Linked DNA regions of Homo sapiens. The protein of the gene in region 2 purifies or fractionates together with the protein of the main gene of each other region. This does not show direct contact. Each region holds a gene or a part of one and is shown on either strand. Other genes may lie near its edges.

Region 1 (7,026 bases), on a different chromosome or scaffold from region 2:
AGTGCCCAGAAAATTCCTGTCATCTTCACATTAAATCTGCTTTTCCTTTTGCAGATTTAATGTGAAAATTCAGGAGGCCGGGCACAGTGGCTCATGTCTGTAATCCCAGCACTGTAGGAGGCCAAGGCGGGTGGATCACCTGAGGTCAGGAGTTTGAGACCAGCCTGGCCAACATGGTGAAACCCCCGTCTCCACTAAAAAATACAAAAATTAGCTGGGTATGGTGGTAGGCACCTGTAATCCCAGCTACTTGGGAGGCTGAGGCAGGAGAATCGCTTGAACCCAGAAGGCAGAGGTTACAGTGAGCCAACATAGTGCCACTGCACTCCAGCCTGGGCAACAAGAGTGAGACTCCATCTCAAAAAAAAAAAAGAAAAAAAAAAAGAAAAGAAAAAATTCAGGATATCCTTTATCCAGGTGCTTGGATAAAAGTTTATTGAGTTCAGGCCGGGCGTGGTGGCTCACGCCTGTAATCCCAGCACTTTGGGAGGCCGAGGCAGGTGGATCACGAGGTCAGGAGATCGAGACCATCCTGGCTAACACAGTGAAACCCCATCTCTACTAAAAATGTAAAAAATTAGCCAGGTGTGGTGGCAGGCGCCTGTAGTCCCAGCTACTCGGGAGGCTGAGGCAGGAGAATGGTGAGAACCTGGGAGGCGGAGGTTGCAGTGAGCCAAGATTGTACCACTGCACTCCAGCCTGGGCGACAGAGCAAGACTCCGTCTCAAAAAAAAAAAAAAAAAAAAAAAAGTTTGTTGAGTGCCTACTGTATTTCACTGTGCCAAGCAATTAACCATCACAGCAGCTCTGTAAGATGCATAGCGTTCCCATTCTGCAAAGGACAAATTTGGGCTCACTCCCTGACGTTAAGCAACTTGCAAAACCAGAATCAGAACTCACACCTGCCAAAACAGAAAGTCTGATTCTTTTCACTGTGGCAAGATATCTCAACATTCAAGATTTTCAAAGAAATTTTATTCATACTTTTGAATTTCTATTTTACTTAATTATTCGTACTATGAGAATATAGAGCCACATGACTTTTCTTAATAATAATGGGTACTAACTAGTTCAACTCTTTACATTTCTTAATTTTAAATTTTGCTAGGCTGGGTGCAGTGGCTCACGCCTATAATCCCAGCACTTTGCGGGGGCCGAGGCGGGTGGATCACTTGAGGTCAGGAGTTGGAGACCAGCCTGGCCAACATGGTCAAACCCCATCTCTACTAAAAATACAAAAATTAGCCAGGCATGGCAGTGGGCACCTGTAATCCCAGCTACTCGGGAGGGTGAGGAAGGAGAATCGTTTGAACCCGGGAGGCAGAGGTTGTGGTGAGCCCAGATCGCACCACTGCACTCCAGCCTGGGCAACAGAGCGAGACTCCGTCTCCAAAAAAAAAAAAAATTTTTTTTGCTAAATTTTCAGCTACATGGTAGGGTAAAAAGCTTTCGGCAGCCACATTAGGAATGAATACTCCCCATTTGCAACAGTGTTACAATACAGAAAAGCACTCAGCTTCAACCACTTTTAATAAATACACTTTTAAATGCAACCCACTTCTTATGGTGGAGCCTGTCCAAGGCCGTTGCACTAAATTAATATCCGAAAAAAGAATGGAGGTTTATTCTTAAAATAGTGTATGTCACCATTTTAAGAGTTAAGAATAAATCTCACCCCATACTTCCCCTTGGTAATTATAAATAAATGAATGGATCAGCTCCTAGTGCCACCGTGCCATTACGCAGCTACATGCTATGGTCCTTTAGTCACACTGGGTCTCATGAGATAACTAGACTTCTCATCTGTACAAAGAGAGCTTGGGTCACCATCCTAAAAATGATCCCCCTCAAAATTTAAGTGATGCTCCTCATTTTGAGAATTCTAGAAGTGCTGGGCATGATATTCTTCCTAGTCACCTCACCTACCCATTTTGTTTTCTTGCTTCTTAAATGTCTTAACTTCTATTTTCATGATCCCAGGGTGCCAGCCTGGACATATCCCAACATTCATGGAATTCTGAAATCACTTACAGGGAGAGGAGATCTGAAGAGCCCATCCCAGAAAATGCTCTATGCCAACAGTAAAGACATATGCACAAAAAAGACTTTGTTCCCAAGAACTAATTTCTTTCCAAGATACCTTTTCAATTCCTCTAAATTACAGAAAGTGACATACTTCTACTTAGTGCTAAGCTCGACTTATCACCGTGGAGTTGCTGACAGTCTCCAACCAGCCAGCGTTCCTACCTTCCCTTCTACAAGAGGGGTGTGCCCTATTCCTTGAGCTAGGGTACGGGCACTCAGCAGCAGAAAGGTGGCCCATGACAGACTTGAAAGCGCACACCAGGAATTGTCTGAAACTCAGAGAATGCTGGAATTAACTTTCTTCCTGTGACCTTTAACCTAGCTGAATTTTCTTCCATTTCCAGTACTAATCGTACTTTCTTCTCACTTGCAGAATTCCCTGTTCTGTCCTGCCTGACACGTTCTCTTCTTGGTTCTTTTCACCTGAACCTTATTCTGATCTGTTACTTCCTCCTGTCCAAGACCTAAGCACTGAACATACCTCACATATTTAAATGTTACCTCCTTCAACTGAGTGAAACGGTATTCATTGCTCCTATACAACTGCTCTTTAGCCGGCCGGGCGCAGTGGCTCACGCCTGTAATCCCAGCACTGTGGGAGGCCAAGGCGGGCGGATCACGAGGTCAGGAGATCAAGACTATCCTGGCTAACACGGTGAAACCCCGTCTCTACTAAAAATACAAAAAATTAGCCAGGCGTGGTGGTGGGCGCCTGTAGTCCCAGCTACTCGGGAGGCTGAGCCAGGAGAATGGCGTTAACCTGGGAGGCGGAGCTTGCAGTGAGCCGAGATAGCGTCATTGCACTCTGGCCCGGGCGACAGAGCGAGACTCCGTTTCAAAAAAAAACAAAAAAACAAAAAAAACCCCGCTCCTTAGCCTAAACAAATGTAAAACTCAATAAGAACAGGCAAAAGGATAAAAATAAGCTTCAATTTAAGCATAAATAATAATTTAAGATGTATCCTTGATCTATTGTGCAGCCCTTAGCAAAAAGCCTTGAATCGTTAGGTGATATCTCATTAGAACAGCGGCTTAATTTCAATATTGAAGCTGCTCTCCAAACAATGAAGAAAAGCAGAAATCTCTACATTTTCTATTTCTCAACCACTCCCAGTGCTCATTTATAGGAATTACCCCTAAATTTTCCCAGTTAACCTTTCAGGGAAACACAAACCCACAGCCACAGAAAACTTTCGTCTCTCTACACTTATACTCTCTTACTTATACTCACTGCCTCTACACAGTCATATTCACTCTCTACACACTCCTCTCTTTTCCCAAGAAAGAGCTCTGTTACAGGCAGAGGAGAAAATGGAGTGCCCTAGGATACACAATGGGGCCACTGTACTAAAAGGTGGAGCTTTTAGTAGAAGTAGAGGTATTATAAATAGAACTGAAGAGGGGAAGCTTTTCTCCCTCCAATCTCTATGATCTTTATTCCTGGCCTTAGAGTTACTGTAAATCCCAGATATTGGGGCTCCTCCAACTTGGGAGGGGTGGAGGTTATGGAGGAAACAGGATGGAACCAAACCAAAAAGGCAAACTGGGTCTAGCGCTAGAGGGGAAAGAGGGGCCCTCGGAACACACAAGATACAGGCCGGTTCACCAAGGTAGGAGAAAGAACTGGAAGAGGTTAATAGCTCACTAATAACGAAGAGCATGCCATTTGTCCTTGGTGCACTCACAACACTTTTTAGGGGTGGCAGCAGCCACATAGGTGGCTGACAGGGATTCTAGTCCTCTTTTCTCACCATAACATTCCCAGGCTTCTTTCCTTTGTCCTCTCTAGTTTACAATCTAAATAGGTGCTTCCAACCTTGATTTTTTAAAATCAAAGCCTTAAACAACAACAAAAATCACCACACCCAGTTTTATGATTGCCTCCATAAAATAGACCAGGCACCTTTCCATGATGCCAGGCCAATGGGCAGGGTGTGCTAGGGTAATATGCCACTATTATGCCCTCCCTTAAAAAAAAAAAAAAAAACCTGAAGATCATCACAAATGTCTCCACTGCCTTTTTTTTTTTTTTTTTTTTTTGAGACAGAGTTTTACTCTTGATGCCCAGGCTGGAGTGCAATGGCACTGTCTCAGCTTACCGCAAGCTCTGCCTCCCGGGTTCAAGCAATTCTCCTGCCTCAGCCTCCCGAGTAGCTGGGATTACAGGCACCCGCCACCACGCCCGACTAATTTTGTATTTTTAGTAGAGACGGGGGTTTCTCCATGTTGGTCAGGCTGGTCTCGAACTCCCGACCGCCAGGTGATCCGCCCACCTCAGCTTTCCAAAGTGCTGGGATTACAGGCGTGAGCCACCGGGCCAGGTCAGTTACTCCTTAAGTATGCAAAAGCACTCAACAAAAAAACACCTCAGGGGATCATGCCTGCTGGGTGGTCTTTAAAGGAAATGGGCTACTTTCCTATACTGGAAAAAAACACCTGACAGAAAAAAAGACGCTCTAGAGTAGCTGAAAATAAAATGCCTGGCTAATGCAGAACCTGATGAAGAAATAGGATGAAGTGTAACATTCTACTGAGGTCATGATATCCCAGCATAAGGCAGAGTTTTAAATCTTGTTTCTCAACAGGGGGAGGAGTGGGGGCCAAGGAAGGAGCATCGGAATCACTAGAGACATTTAAAATACAGTCGGCCCTCCTTATCCATGGGTTCTGCATCCATGGATTCAACAAACTATGGATCAAAAACAGTCAGAAAAAAATAAAGAAAGATATAAATAAAACAATACAGTGTAACAACTATTTATGTAGCATTTACATTGGATCAGGTATGATAAGTAATCTAGAGATATATCTAGAGTAATCTAGAGGTATGATAAGTAATCTAGAGATGTTTTCAAGTATATATTATGCAATGTGCTAAGGTTATATGCAAATACTATGCCATTTTATATAAGGAAGTTGAGCAACTGTGGATTCTGATATCTGCAGGTGTCCTGGAACCAAACCCCCACAGATACCAAGGGACTACTATGTGTCTGGATCTCCCACCCCGACCTACTGAACCACAATCTCTATGGTAGGGCCCAGATAGGTGTATTTTTTTTTTTTTTTAAGTTCCCCAGGTGATTCTAATGCACACACCTGGTTAACAACCATAGTTAAAAAAATGATGAGGCCAGGCACAGCAGCTCACGTTTGTAATTCCAGCACTTTGGGAGGCTGAGACGGGCGGATCACCTGAGGTCAGGAGTTTGAGACCAGCCTGGCCATTATGGTGAAACCCAGTCTCTACTAAAGATACAAAAATTAGCCAGGCGTAGTGGCGGATGCCTGTAATTCCAGCTACTCAGGAGGCTGAGGCAGGAGAATCGCTTGAACCCGGGAGGTGGAGGTTGCAATGAGCCAAGATTGCGCCACTGCCCTCCAGCCTGGGCAACAGAGCGAGACTGTACAAAAAAAAAAAAAAAAAGATAGAAACATTCTTCAATCAAGAAAACTACAAGTAGACCAAAAAACTCAGGCTTCAGTTTCTTCATTAAATGAGATGGTTGAACTAGATTAGCAGTTGAACTAGTTATTGGTAGTGTTTGGGGGAGGGGAGGTGTTAGCCAAAACACCCTCTGTAACAAGTGAATTTTATTCAAGAAATTCAACAGTAAAACAAAAGCAGAGCTACTTTGGATGGGGGAAGGAAGGTGTGTTGAAGCTCTTCCCTCTCACCCCCAGGTCACCTCAGTGGAATCACCAAAGCTCCACAGAGCACAAGATGGTCTCTCAGAACAGCTGCAGCTTCCAAATTCTTTGACCTTCCAAACCTTGAAATCCACAATTTAAATGGCAGAGATCTTACAGTTTTTGTTTTCTTATAAACTTCATATGAGAAAATGCCCCCTTTTCTAGTGATATAGCATGCCTTGCTATGTCATCTTCTATTATTTAGAAAGACAAGTGTTATCCTCCTCACTTAAGTCATCACTGAAACCCAAGCTCCAGTTTCCTGGAAGTTTTAAGCTCAGAAAAGAAGCCTAGACACAAGAGGGCATGCAAAATACAGGTTAGTGTTTGCCCCAGGAGAAGGAAGAATGGGACCAGAGGGGCACAAAAAAGACTTTAAATGTAGCGATGTTGGTTTTGTTTTGTTTTGTTTTTAGAGGAAAGGGAAATATCTCAAATGTTAACATTTGTTAGTTCTGGAATACAATGATGTTTGTTGTACTGTTCTCTGGACTTTCTTGTAGCATTTTAAGATTTTCAGAATTAAAATACACACATACACACACACTTGTTTATTAGCACCACTTCAAACACCCTTTTTATTAAACGTTAATTACAAATATTTCATTATCCCTCACTTGACTTTTCCACCAAAGCTCACTTATAGAATACATGATCTATAATTACATCTACCCTGGGACTCTGCAAAAGAACACAAGCACCAGAACAAAAGAAATGAATCACTGATAACAAAATGACACTCTAAAATTAAGACCACAAGGTTGTGGGGCATCTGAAAAAGGAAAAGAGCAGCTTTACATTCACTTCACAAAGAATGCAGAGGATGCTGACTCTGAATATTGCCAAACAGATGGACCTACACCAACAGCACCACGCTTCTAAGCCTCCCAAACCAAGCAGCCACTCCGCAGGTCATAGGAGGAGGAGACTCAATTCATATATAAATCAAAATTCATGAAGCATAAGTGAAACATTAAAGCCAATAACTTCAAATCCTAAAAATGCTATTTCCACCCCACAGTTGGTAACGCCCAAAACATGCACAATAAGCATAAGACTGAACAATAGAAACCTGGAAAACCGTTCAGTACACTTAAATGCCCATCACAGTGATTCATGATAAACTCTCATCAAGGCTACTTATTGCCATAAATAAATACCCTACCTATACTTATTCCCTCAACCACCAGCTTCCCAGTTACATCTATAACATACTCAAATAAATCTTTTCTTTTTTTTCCCCCCACC
Region 2 (7,026 bases):
CATCTCAGATACAAACCCAGTTTCTAGGGGATTTCAAGGCACAACAGAGCTTTGAGTGTTAAACAGCACAGCAGAGAATGCATTTTCCTGACCTTAAAAACATGTTGCCATGAAAAATGCCTCCACCACAACCAGTTTGATTTTGAAATGCCCTCAAAGAATTACCCACATTGGCACCCTTTGAAATGTCTGCATCATTTACTTCCAAATCTCACTTTCCAGGTAGAAGCATAAAAACCAGACGGAATGCTGGGATTCACTTCTTTCAAAGTACAATTTCATAAAATGCTATTTCCATTCCCCTTTACGTACTGGAAATTTGCAGCATGGGCATAATGCCCTGTGTCATAACAAATAAAACACGTGTTTTTCCATCCACATCAGTCTGTTAGTTTCACATTCAGCAACTTAATAATTGCATAAAAATATCACCTATATTCCAAAATATTCCCATAGATTGATTTATATTGGGAAAATTATCTGTCCCAAGGGAAAGAAATATCCCAATTCTAAAATAGCAGAAGTACTTCCAATCTGTAACCAGGAAGTTTCATATTAAGTGGTTGAAGAAAGTGGAAGCAAAATGATGGTCGGAACTTTCTCACTGTGTCTGTCCTCCCAGAAGCAGGGTGCTCATCATCTGCCCACAGAACAAGAAGAGTCCATTCCTAATGGCATTAGGAAGGCTGGAGTGGCCTTGCCAAAGAGAGAGCCCCAGGGGGACACCAGCCTTGCTAGAGGTCCTCCCCCAGGTCTCAGTTGACCAGGGGCTTAGGACAAGGTGGTAATAAATGAGAACAGGAGTTGACCTTTGTTGGCTAGAGTCAATAGATAACGAGTCTGGAAGGAGTCATGAGACAGGGTCCCCATTCTTCCCCGGGGGGACTTTTGCTCATGCTGTCATTCTGTCTGGCATGCACACACTTCTCTCCCAGTCTCCATACACCAAAGCCCTACCTGGTCCTTATGGTTGAGCCCCACTGTCTCCATCAAACTGTTCCTCCCCCAAGACAGAAGTGGTATCACCTCCTCAGTCCTCACAGACTCTTCCTTGTACCTCTTTCGTAACAGTTCCCATGACTGTCATTTCATTTTGCTAACTGGCTCCAACTTTTCTCTTCCCTGGTTGGCTACACGTGCCTTGAGGTTCAGGAAGGTCTTACCCCTCTTGTTATATCATGGTCTACAGGGTCTCAAGCCCACTAGACCAGGGCATGGCCCCCACTAGGTGGGGGTTTGGATAGAGGAGCTCAGAGCAGAGGCAGGAAGGGGGCATGAGAGCCCACCATTCCTACTCATCCACTTGCCTATAAACTACCAGAAAAGTGCGAGCAAAAGGGCCACAGATGGCATTCTCAGTGTTCCCAGGGGACATATGCAGGAGATTATCTGCAACACAGTGGTGACCTGCCAGCTCTGGTGAAATGGAATACTTCAGTCAGTAAGGGGCAGAAAGCAATCATCCGTACCAAGACTACTAAGAGAAGCGTGCCTCCTCTGCTCACGAATGCACGTGTGCACTCCTAGCAGGAGTATGCAGGGGCTGCAGAAGCACTTGTCCCTTCTGCATTTCCCCTCAGACTTATATTTACAACCCAAACCCCACAAATCATGGCCTGTCCTCAGACAGAGTCTGAGCAGGCAGAGCTCCGCATCTGTAAGGAGAGAAGCAGTTTTGCTCAGCCCAGAACTGTCTGCGCTGCACCTTCACCCCGACTGGCGGGGACACAGCTCTTTGGCAGGTCAGCACCCTGTGCAGGGACAGGAAAACCTGGAAATTGGGCACAGGGCAGTTCCTGCAGCAGCAGTTCTGCTCGGTCCCTGATCCCCGCGATCCCACGCATGGCATGTGTGGGATTTCAGATTCTTTTCTTCCCCTGGCTGTGCAGCTGGCAGCTCACAAAGGGTCTCTGGGACTGAGCAGCTGCACCGAGTCCCACCTTCCCCAGCAACGAAGGCTTCAGAAAATGCTTCCCTCTGCTACAAAATCTGAGTACTCATGTGCAGGGAGAGGGTCTCACTCTGTTGTCACAAACCCAGGAAAGAGCAAAGTACCTTCTGGCCGCGGTTTTGGCTTTTCCAACCCTCCATCTTGCATGAGCTCAAAGGCAAAGGAGACATTCAAGACCTGGCAAGAGAGATGCAGACAGCATGTACCATTGCACACCCAGGAGCCCCAGGACCTGGCCCTGGGAAGTGAAGGAGCCCAGCACTGTAGCCAGAGGGACAGAGGCTGAACTAATTTCAAGGAGAAATATGGCTACCAAAATGGGCAGGCCACCTGGAGCGTGAGCTAGCTGATCCTAGCTTGCTGTTGGGAGAAGCACTCCTGGAGAAGCACAAAACTCCCTTCATATCCTACTGTGTTCCTGTGTAAACTGCCAGGACTTCAAATTGGGGGTGTCAGTGCACACGTCTGGAAGAATCAGATGGCAGGACATGTTCAACAGGCAGAGCAGGCTTTCTGGTCAAATGCCTTTGTGTAGCGAGCAGGATGTGGCAGCCTACGAGAGGCCATCAGAACCAGGCTAAGCATGAGCCTCAGGGCTGACCAGCTTCACAGTCACTTTCCTTGTCATCTCTGGGGAGAGAGGAGGCTGGGCTGGGGCACTTGACAGGGACACAGGGCAGGGGACCCGGGCCAGGCTTCAGGGCAAGGGAAAGGCAGTCAGGGATGCCCAGTGGTCTGCAGGTAGCTCCTTCCCAGCTCAGCTCTTATAATGGGTCCCACCTCCAGGCACTGAAGACGTTGAGCAGAGGGGAAGCTTCTGCCTTTTTTCTGGATAGCCCCAGCATGGGTGTGGGCACATGAGTCAGGGGATGTGGGCTAGGGGGCCTCCCTTGATGTCCCTTCTCCTTACCTTCTGTTCAAAGCTGTCCGGGGTCAGGAAGAAGCTGTGCAGGGGCACAAAGTAGCCCTCCAGGAGCCCCATGAGCAGCACCAGGTACACCCCATCTGCAAACTGGAGGAAGAGCCAGGTGATGGCACTGGCCCCTGAGCCTCCCAGCCAATCCCCATCCAGGGGGCCCATCAACTTCTGTGCTATGCCACCTGAAGCCTACCACCCCAGCCAGGCTGCTAGCTCGGGGGTAGGGGCAGTGGCCCGAGACAAGGAGGTCTGCTCTGCCCCACGTCTGGCTGGCACAGGAGCCACAAGCCCAGGCCCTGATCTCAGCTGACCCAGCATTTACTGAACAGAGGCTGTGTACCAACTCCTGGTCTAGGCATGGGGACCAGAGCATGGTGGGGGGTGGGGGGTGGGGGGTGGTCAGTGTGGCTCCTGCCCTGGAGGAGTACACAGTCTAATAGGGAAACTGGTGTGGGGGCAAGGCACAGCTGCTCTGATGGAAGGAAGCTCGCTGGCCTGAGTGAGGTTGAGAAAGGTCGCCCACAAGCACTGAAGGCATCAGAGGAGTCTTCTGGAGGGGACAGAGCCTGAGTGGAGAGCTGAGGATGAGCAGGATTGGCTAGAGTGGGACAGAGGGAGGAGGGGGAGGTGATGTCCAAGGTGAATGGCATGAGGTTCCTGGGGAGATCTGTGCTTTCTGAACAGAGAAAGGACTAGTGTCACACAGGGCTGGGCATTCTTTCTCCCATCTCTCTTCAGTATTACAGCAGCAGAGTGCAGCTGTTATGAATGTGGGCTCTGGGGCCAGGCCTCCCAGGTGCAAATTCCAGCTCTCTCACCTACTAGCTATATGCCTTGGGCAAGTTATGTCACTTCTCTGTACTCATATGTCTTATCTGTAAAACAGGGATGGTAATAGAATAGTATCTATGTCACAGAGTTATCGTGAGGACTAAGCCAGTTAAATATGCAGAGAGGGCCTGTAAACTGCTAGGCATGTAGCATTGAATAAATATTAAATGTTGCTATTACTGTCTGGGAAAACAACAAAGCAATCAGGACATGACTTACTTGCTCTTGCTGGCAAAAGCAGAACTATGTGCTGAGGGCCCTGGCAGGAGGCTTGCAGCCCGGTCCCTTCCTAGGCAGAAGAGGCCAGATGGGTTGGGAAACCAGGCCCAAGGGACAGGAGAGTCCCTCAGCTAAGTGCGGAGGCTGCTGGTCTTCTGCTTAGGGCTGGGTGAAGTGAGCATACACTGAGGGCTCAGGACAGGCTTGTGGAGGCCGGGGATGATGGACCTTGGGAGGAGTAGGGGGTTCCAGGTAGGGGGGATGGCCTAGCAAAGACATAGAGGTCAGATGCACATCCGACATTCTAGAACCCTTTCAAAGGAGGCTGGGCCACCAAATGTTTATGAGTGTATATAGCTGCTGGGGTTTAGAGAAGGCCACATTTCTTGGAATCACCTTAGGAGCCCAGAGTCTGCTCAGAGAGCTTTCCAGGTAGCCAGCTAGCCGGCCTGCGGCTCAGCCGTCATTAAGGGCACAAGACCCTGAGCTTGCGCTTGCCTTAAAGGCAGCTTCTGGCCGAGTGCGGTGGCTCATGCCTGTAATCGCAGCACTTTGGGAGGCTGAGGCAGGCGGATCGCTTGAGCTCAGGAGTTCCAGACTGGCCTGGGCAACATGGTGAAACCCTGTCTGTACTAAAAATACAAAAAAATTAACCGGGTATGTTGGTGCATGCCTGTAGTCCCAGCTGCTCAGGAGACTGGGGTGGGAGGATCACCTGAGCCTGGGAAGTTGAGGATGCAGTAAGCCGTGATCGTGCCACTGCACTCTAGCCTGCATGACAGGAGTAAGACCCTGTCTCAAAAACAAAAGGGTAGCTCCTCCCAGCTTCTATCCATCAGGCCTGCAACTCAGGTGGGAACGGCCTGAGCATGACTCACCCTAGGTGGACACGGGAGAGCAGACCCCAGAGTCTGTCAAAATCAAGGCCCTTCTGGTGGGAGCTGAGCAACTGGGCTTCATTCAAGCTGTGGTGAGAAGGAGTTAGGAGTAAAAGAATCCAATCTGTGAGCTCAGGGGTGACCTTGGGTTAGGGTTGGGGTCATTCACAGCTCTGAGTGCCAGGCTTAGACTGCTCCTCACCTCCCATGGCTGGTTCCACTGACTTGGTAGGAATAGTAGATAAAACTGTAGAGACCCAAAGTGCTTGGCAGTGACCCCTGTCATAGCACTCCCTGCCCTTGAAAACGGAGCTGATCATTCCAGGGCCCATTCTAGCTCACTCAAGGAAGCGTCACTTTTCCAGAACATTCCTTATTTCCTACAAGAGTACATGAAGCTCATTTCACACAGTCTAGACACACTCAGGTGGAGCTCAGCGACAGGCTGGCATTTGTCTTTAAAATAAAAGGAGGTACCCAGATGACTGAAAGAGAAGTATAAGGCAGAAGCTCACCAAGAATGAAAGGAGGTGGGGAAACAGGATTCATCAGGCTCAAAATATCTCCCCAATAAAGATTAGTTAAGTATAAAGAGAGGAAAAATAACTTTATAATAGGGAAATCCGGTGAACACCATCCTAACCAAATAATCCAAGTTATCACTAGCAGTGGGACTAATGGACAGAGTGCCTCCTCCTGGGATGCCCCGGGAAGAACACAGCCTTACTTGGGACGTGCTGTTAATGAAAATGCATGACCTGAATCTAATATGTGCAGAAAAGACAGTCTATAAACCAACTGGCCTGAACACTTCAAAAAGTGTCAGTGCCACAACAAGAAAGGCCGAGGAGTTGTTCTACGTTAAAAAGAGACTAAAGAGACATGACAAGTAAATGCAGCATGTGAGCAAACTGGACAACTGGCAAAATCTGAACAGAGTGTTTTTTCTAACCACATGATGTTGCCATTTTAGTAGGTTAAGAACAGTCAGCTGGGTGCGGTGGCTCATGCCTATAGTCCCAGCACTTTGGGAGGCCAAGGTGGGTGGATCACCTGAGGTCTGAGTTTGAGACCAGCCTGACCAACATGGTGAAACCCCGTCTCTACTAAATACAAAAAATTAGCCGGGCTTGGTGGCGCATGCCTGTAATCCCAGCTACCTGGCAGGCTGAGGCAGGAGAATCGCTTGAACCTGGGAGGCAGAGGTTGCAGTGAGCCGAGATCTTGCCACTGCACTCCAGCCTGGGCAACAAGAGTGAAACTCTATCTCAAAAAACAAAACAAAACAGAAAACAAAAACAGTCGAATGTCAGCAATTTCATATGATTCAATCTAAACAGATTAATGTATTATGTTAAAACTGCCTGCCTTTGATAATTGTGTTGTGGTTACCTAAGAGAATGTGCTTGTTCTTGAGAGACATATGCTCAAGCATTTAGGGGTGCAGAGAAAGAGAGAGAGGTGTGGCCAAATATTAACAATCGGTGCATCCCAGTGAAGGGTATATGAGTATTCATTCTTGTAATTTTCATAATAAAAAGTTGGAAAAAATCCACAGAGACTCAGTCCACCCCTCAGAGTAGGACAGATTCCCATGCCCTCATCCCCCTCAGCTGGGAAAGCCCTCCTGGCCAAGTGTGGTGGGCCACTTGGAACAGGGGCTGTAGGGCAGGGCCCTGCCTCTACCTGTGCTGGGGTCTGTCACCCACCTGGGTTTCCAGTTCTGTGACCTCCAGGTTCAGTTTATTCAGGTGCTTGTTCACGAAAGTGATGAGTGTCTAAAAGAGAAGCAAAGCAGGCCCTAAGCTGGGGACTCGCACTAGTGCAGGAGCCTGTGGCTGCTCCGTGACTCCCGTGAGGGCAAGGGTGAGGGTGAAAGCAGAGGATCAGGCCCAGCCAAGAGCCCTGGGCCCAGGAGCTCTCTCTGCAAAGGCCATTGAGTGCACAGGGAGGGCCACAGGCTCGACTTTGCAGTCCCATACAACTCAGGGCGTGTAAGGAACAAGGAGGTCCCAAGAGGCAGAATGATAGGTGGAGTGTCTGAGCCAGTGTCTGGGTGGGGGAACTGAAATAAAATGATTCCACTGGATCTCTCCTTCCTGTCCCTTCTTCGGCACAGGTGCCTAGGCCAGGGAGACAGGGAATTCTGTGAGGAGTGGGGAAGGCTGAGATTGCTGGGGTTAGCCTGGGTGGGAAGACAGGCTGTTCATGCTGATGGAGGGGAAAAG
Region 3 (7,026 bases), on a different chromosome or scaffold from region 2:
TCAGCCTCCCGAGTAGCTGGGACTACAGGCGCCCGCCACCACGCCAGGCTAATGTTTTTTTTGTGTGTGTATTTTTAGTAGAGACAGGGTTTCACGGTGTTACCAAGGATGGTCTCAATCTCCTGACCTCCTGATCTGCCCATCTTGGCCTCCCAAAGTGCTGGGATTACAGGCGTGAGCCACCACACCCGGCTGGGGCTTCCCTTTCAAAGCCATCCATCATCTCGTTTCCTTGTTGATTTTTTTAAGTAATAAATATTTATCTTAATTAGGACAACCAATGAATTTGCCATGTAATCAACACTGTCAGGTTCTTACCTATTAACAAGATCTTACTTAAATCTATAAGGCCCTTTAACACCAAGGTCTTTAAGGAGTTAGAATCTTTTAAAAATAATATTTAAATTTATTGTTTCACATTAGTTTGAATAAAGCACAAGCCAAGATGGTTTAAATATCATTTGCAGATGTCCAAGCTTCTTTACAATTACAGGTCATGGGCATCATCAACCTAGTCCTTGACTTGCAGCTAAAAAAGGCAAAAGGTCTGTGTGAAGTGACAGAAGAGCACACCCTACTCATGTCATGAGCAAGGAATCAAAGTCGAAGAACAGTAACAGTCTTGACATCAGCACTGTAAGAATTACTCTGCAGTAAACTCCAACCCAGAATGGGGAAGAATACTGAATTAGCTGAGCACATTCTGGACACAATTCTGACCAATTTCAGTCTCATGATCTCTGTTGGAGCAGGTTTCATTCTCCAATTCTCTTTTACAGAACAGCAGAACTCGAGCCTTCATAAAAGTGATTAACGGCCTTTCCGCTTCTTCATTTTTCCTCCAGCCACCTTGTTCCTGACACCAATAGCACCCTCTGTGTCATCATTATCTCCAGCATCCTCTCGCGAGCGTTTCTTCTTTTCTCCATGCTCCCTTAACTCCTGCAAGAAAAAAAGAGAGGATGGGATTGAAAATGAATTACTGGCACTGAAGGTTACTCATTCTAGTCCCCTCTCCTTAAGATCAAGTATCAAGTAACTTGCTGATGCCTGACATTAGCAAAGGAACAAGACCCAACTCCAAATATACAAAGATGTTAACCTTATTAGTAATCAAAACGTGAACACTAAAGTAAGGTTTTATTTTCACATGGCAGATTGGCAAAGACTTAAGAGAAGGGTAATCCCCAGTATTGGCCAAGGTGTAGAAAAATTCACATATACTCTCATTTATAGTGCAATCTGCTATAGCTTTTCTTGGGGCGGGGGACAATTTGGCATTCTGTATGAATTCAAATTTTAACTGTGTATGTCCCTTGGCCCAACAAGTGTACTTCTAGGAATTTATTCTAAGGAAGTAAATATGCAAAGCTGTACAAAGTAGGGTGTTTAACACTGTACCAAAGTAGAAAGAAACTGGAAAAAAGCGTAAGCATCCATGAATGTAAGTATTTCATACACATGATGGAATTCTTTGTAGCCATTAAGAAACGATCACATGAATCTGTATTTGTTGAAACAGAAAAATGTTAATCCTATATAATTAGATAAAGTCTAATTATGGCTAAAGAAAGAAAAATAGCCAAATGTTATCAATGGTTTTCTGTGGGGAATGGTTTACCTTTTCACTTACTACTTTAATCCTTTCTGTATTTTTTGAATTTTTTTCCCAATGCACATGTAATACTTTTACAAACAAAAAAATCCCATGTGGACAGAATAAAAACCAAATGTGCACCTCAGCTACTCCAAAAACAAACTATGGGCAAAGTTTCTCCATCCCTCAGACCAGAACTCCAGAAAGCAGGCAGCACTTCCAATGGTTTTCCTCTAGAATCTTCTCATCACCACTATTACTGTTACTACTACTTACAGGGTGAGTATCCCTTATCTGAAATGCTTGGGACCAGCAGTGTTTCGGACTTCAGATTTTTTCTAATTCTAGAATATTTGCAGATACATATGAGCTATCTTGGGGATGGGGCTCAACTCTAAACACAAAATTCACTTGTTTCATATATACCTTATATATGAAGGTAATTTTACACAATATTTTTAATTGTCTGAAGGTAATTTTACATCATATTTTTAATATTTTTGTGCATTAAAAACATTTTGACTGTGTCTTGATAGCAACCTGTCACACGAGGTCAGGCATGGAATTTTCCACTTGCGGCAATCCTTTTCGCACTCAAAAAATTTTGGATTGCTGGGCACAATGGCTCAAGCCTGTAATCCCAGCACTTTGGGAGGCCGAGGCGGGGGGATTACCTGAGGTCAGAAGTTCGCCTGACCAAAATGGAGAAACCCCATCTCTACTAAAAATACAAAATTAGCTGGGCATGGTGGCACATGCCTGTAATCGGGAGGCTGAGGCAGGAGAATCGCTTGAACCCGGGAGGCGGAGGTTGTGGTGAGCCGAGATTGCACCATTCGCTCCAGCCTGGGCAACAAGAGCAAAACTCCATCTCAAAAAAAAAAAAAAAAAGAAAAAAGAAAAGTTTTGGATCTTGGTTTTGGATTTCAAATTTTTGGATTAGGTATGATCAACCCCTACTAGTAACTATGTAGTTTATATTGGCTTCTCTGGTGCTCATAAAACCCCATAAGGTATTCAGGCAAGTGTTATTCCCAATTTACAGGTGAGAAACTGATTCTGATTCTGAGAAATCAGGCAAATTTCCCAAGCTCACACAGTTCACAGCTGGATCTTCTGACCTCAAGTCTGATGAACTATCTCACCACGTGCGACACATGAACAGGTGCTGTGAATGTGTGAATGTCAGAATGAGGCCAAACCTTGATTCAACCATTTGGTTGTATGGTCTAATGCAAATTACCTACCATCTCTGCACCTTAGTTTGCTCGTCTTAAATTTGGAATAAAATAATACCCAGCTTCTGCAGTTTAGTATGAGGGTTAATATAATAAAGTGGCACACAGTTAACATTGTTTGCACAGACACTGGTGAGAAAAGAAAGATGCATACCATTCGGGCAAACCTTTGGGCTTCAGCGACGCGTTCTGTCAGCATCATAACCTCATCATCCTGTGTTGGAAAACCTGGTAGTTTCTTCCCAATTAAGTGTTCTATGCGCTGGAAGAGTTCCACATCATACCTGAGGAAGGAAAACTGCACAGCTCTGGTTGCCTGGTAACGCAAATGCCTGTCCATTCCCAAACTATTATTATATGATACAACGCAATAGGAACCATAGGTTTAAACAATATTGAACATATTATTTCTTTTCTAAATATGGGTTAAGTGCAATCTCTGTGCATAGCCCATTAGAAAATCACTCAAGGGAGGCCAGGCATGGTGGCTTGCACCTGTAATCCCAACGCTTTGGGAGGTCAAAGCAGGAGAATCACTTGAGACCAGGAGTTCCAGACCAGCCTGGACAACACAGTGAGATGCCATCTCTATAAAAAATTAAAAATTAGCCAACCGTGGTGGCATGTGCCTGTAATCCCAGCCATTCAGGAGACTGAGGTATGAGGACTACTTGAGCCCAGGAGTTTGAAGCTGCAGTGAGCTATGATCAAGTCACTGCACTCCAGCCTGGTCAACAGAGTGAAACCTTGCTGCTTAAAAAAAGAAAAAGAAACAAAAATCGGCCAGGCAGGTGGCTTGTGCCTGTAATCCCAGCACTATGAGAGGCTAAGGCAGGTGGATCGCTTGAGCTCAGGAGTTCAAGACCAGCCTGGCCAACATGACAAAACCCTATCTCTACTAAAAATATTTTTTAAAAAGCCAGGTGTGCTGGCATGCACCTGTGGTCCCAGCTACTTGGGAAGCTATGGTGAGGTAGGAGGATTGCTTGAGCCCAGGGGGTGGAAGGTGCACTTAGCCAAGACTGCACCACTGCACTCCAGCCTAGGCGACAGAGCGAGACAAATACAAAAAAAAAAAGGAAAGGAGGGAGGGAGAAAATCCCTCAAGGTATTTATTCACAGAACAGCCTTGGGTACATAAAAATTTGTTTCTTTAAAAAAAACAATTGGAAATAGTTATTCTAATACTTTCTGAGTTGACACAAAGGCAATTGCTCTCCAGCTCTAGGTACCATTCTACATGCCAAATACTATACTAGATCTTTTACATATATAATCTCCAATTTTCACCAAAACCCTGCTAGATAGGTATTATTATTCCCATCTTTCAACTCCTTCATCCTGGTTTTCAGTATGAAAGTGATTAGTGTAGTAAATGGTAGTGTCAGGTTCTCAGCCAGTGGCTTGAAAGTTCTGCTCTTTTCTCTACATTGCTCGGCCCTAAAGCTGATTTACTTACTGTGTGACAAAAGTAATAGCCTTTCCGGAGCGCCCAGCTCTAGCTGTTCGACCTACTCGATGGATGTAATCCTAAAACAAAAAGGGTAAATAAATTCAAGTTATATGGATTATAAGTTTAAAAAAAACTACATATGCAAAGTCCTGCTGCAAAACCTTTGAAAGAAAATAGATTCATTTCGTAACATGGAGAAAATAAATGGCCGGGGCAATTTGTTGAGACAAATCTACTTCATCTTTTTTGTTCTCCTTGCAGCACAAAATTGATCCAATGCTTTCCCTTCTTTCACAGACAGATAAATCTACAAAGCATATCTACATGGTCGCAGGCTGCATGGTATTTTAAAAAACAGCACTGGATCTCGAGGCAGAGCTGGATTACAGCTCTGATCCTTCCCATCTGCCAGTTACACAATTACCTGCAAATCACATAACCTCTCTGAACCTTGGTTTCTATCTAGTGAACAGGAATAGAAATACATGCCCATATTACAGAGTTGTTATGAAAATCAAATGAGACAGCATCTTGTCTACAGCAGTTAAATACAAAGACAAGAGACACAACAGTTCTCATCCAGGGGTGATTCTGCCATCCTCAAGGGACACTGGTAATGTCTGGAAATATTTCTGATTATCACAGGTGGAAGACTGTGTGATGCTGTTATCTACTGGGTAAAGGCCAGGAATGCTACTAGGAATCCTTCAACTCAAAGAACAACCCCCACAACAAGGAATTCGAAAGCTTAAAATGTTAATAGTGCCAAGGCTGAGAAACCTTGAGATACACTAAGCACTACAAGCTGTAGGCCGGGCACGGTGGCTCACGCCTGTAATCCCAGCACTTTGGGAGGCCGAGGTGGGCAGATCACGAGGTCAGGAGATCAAGACCGTCCTGACTAACACGGTGAAACCCCATCTCTACTAAAAATACTAGCCGGGCGTGGTGGTGGGCGCCTGTAGTCCCAGCTACTCGGGAGGCTGAGGCAGGAGAATGGCGTGAACCCAGGAGGCAGAGCATGCAGTGAGCCAAGATTGCGCCACTGCACTCCAGACTGGGTGCAGACTCCACCTCAGAAAACTCAGAGCGAGACTCCGCCTCAAAAAAACTACAAGCTGTCATTCTCAAGAAATGACAGTGACAAGATCAGTATGTGGCGCACCAGCCCCTTCTATGAGCATCTAATAACTCTCCTTGGCTACCTCTTTCATATGTACTAATGTTACATACACAGGCCTGTGCAAGATGATGTGAATGAACTAACCAAGGGCTTTCTTGTTTTTTGATACTTAATTAACCAGGAACAAAATAACTGCTGTAACTAAGGAAAGACAGAAGACAGTCCATTAAGAAATACACTTTAGGACTAGAAAGGTAAGTTAGCAATAGGACTCACCTTGGAATGGGTAGGAATGTCAAAGTTGACAACCACATCTACATGAGGTATGTCCAAACCTCGGCTGGCAACGTCAGTTGCTAGAAGAATGGAACGGGCCTTGGCCTTAAACTTATTAAGGGATCCTAGGCGCTTACTCTGAGGTAATGAAAAAGAAATGTTGGAAAACTTAACCTATGTTTTGGAATACAAAACACAAAATAGACAAACACGAGAACAAACAGACATAAATTTTTTAAAGGTTTTTCCCCCTAAGTTTTGAATGGGGCTTCACAGGTCAAAACAGAAATATGGAAGCAACAAAAAATTAAAAAAATATATATGATACAAAATAAGGGTAGTTTGACACGATAGAAAGGTAACTGGGAAATAATTTATTAATGTTTTTAGAGGCCAGAGTCATTATTACCACTAGGGCTGAATAAATCAACTCAACAGCTTGCAAACCAGACAGGTACATATGAAATATTCTAATGGGAGCCTCTCGCTACCCTGAAAGGAGAAAGTAAGTATCTAGAGCAACACTTCAAAGCCCATAAAATTACAACAATTATGGAAACAGGCATCGGTGCCCTATGGCCTTATTGTACAAACCTACTGTTAGGAGGTTTATCTCGCTCACGCCACCAGTGCATGGCTGATGATGATGATGAATCCTTACCTGACTCATTTGTCCATGGAGGGGGATGGCAGTGAAGCCAAGATTTCGCAGTAGCAAAGCTGTTCTCTGGGTATTATTACAGGTGCTGCAGAATATCATAAAGGAGTTTCCAGCCAATTCATTTAGAATATAAACCAGGTAGGTATCCTAAGTTACAAACCCAAAACAATATATGTCATTGAACCTGGGAGACAGGATTGGAGACCTGGCATATACATAAGGTAAAGACTAAGCCTATAGTCGCTTTTCAATTATCCAGACCTCCAGCTGCCAGCTTTGCATTCCTTAACCAGCATTATCATCTCTGTGAACCACATATTCCCCACTTAGCCTTAAGGCAGGCAGGAGATCTGTACTCAGCAAACAGGAGAAGTCCTTATATCAAAGCACAAAACCAGGGGCTTCATCCTAAATAAAAGCCACATAATAAGCAGACAAAGGAAAAATTACCTCAAGGATGGGGATGGGAAGGAATTATATGATTACATCATGACCTCAGTATTGTGATTTAATGTGTTGTGAATTCCTGGCATGTCTGGCTTATCGGTGATAATATAAGCACGATATGCACTCTAAAGCAAACAGACAGGATGCCAATCTGCATTACAGCTCTTACCTAATCAAGAGTTGACACATTTTCAGATGCTTTGGTGAAAAGAAGAGGGAGAGGCAGGAATG

The links. Proteins that work in one complex are often made in the same cells at the same time.
Region 1: the proteins of PARVA (region 2) and IQGAP1 purify together in Homo sapiens (affinity purification with mass spectrometry; 3 studies listed by BioGRID and IntAct, with this or other methods). This does not show direct contact.
Region 3: the proteins of PARVA (region 2) and DDX47 purify together in Homo sapiens (affinity purification with mass spectrometry; 2 studies listed by BioGRID and IntAct, with this or other methods). This does not show direct contact.

Annotation. Positions count from the first base shown.
Region 1 is NC_000015.10:90,391,235-90,398,260, reverse strand, and holds part of IQGAP1 (ras GTPase-activating-like protein IQGAP1), read right to left. Parts: intron 1-7,026. UniProt on the Homo sapiens protein: Plays a crucial role in regulating the dynamics and assembly of the actin cytoskeleton.
Region 2 is NC_000011.10:12,513,547-12,520,572, reverse strand, and holds part of PARVA (alpha-parvin), read right to left. Parts: intron 6,577-7,026; coding exon 6,508-6,576; intron 2,964-6,507; coding exon 2,862-2,963; intron 2,129-2,861; coding exon 2,056-2,128; intron 1-2,055. UniProt on the Homo sapiens protein: Plays a role in sarcomere organization and in smooth muscle cell contraction. Required for normal development of the embryonic cardiovascular system, and for normal septation of the heart outflow tract.
Region 3 is NC_000012.12:12,823,339-12,830,364, reverse strand, and holds the end of DDX47 (probable ATP-dependent RNA helicase DDX47), read right to left. Parts: intron 6,496-7,026; coding exon 6,349-6,495; intron 5,826-6,348; coding exon 5,688-5,825; intron 4,366-5,687; coding exon 4,295-4,365; intron 3,120-4,294; coding exon 2,990-3,119; intron 943-2,989; coding exon 811-942; 3' UTR 384-810; downstream 1-383. UniProt on the Homo sapiens protein: Required for efficient ribosome biogenesis. May have a role in mRNA splicing. Involved in apoptosis.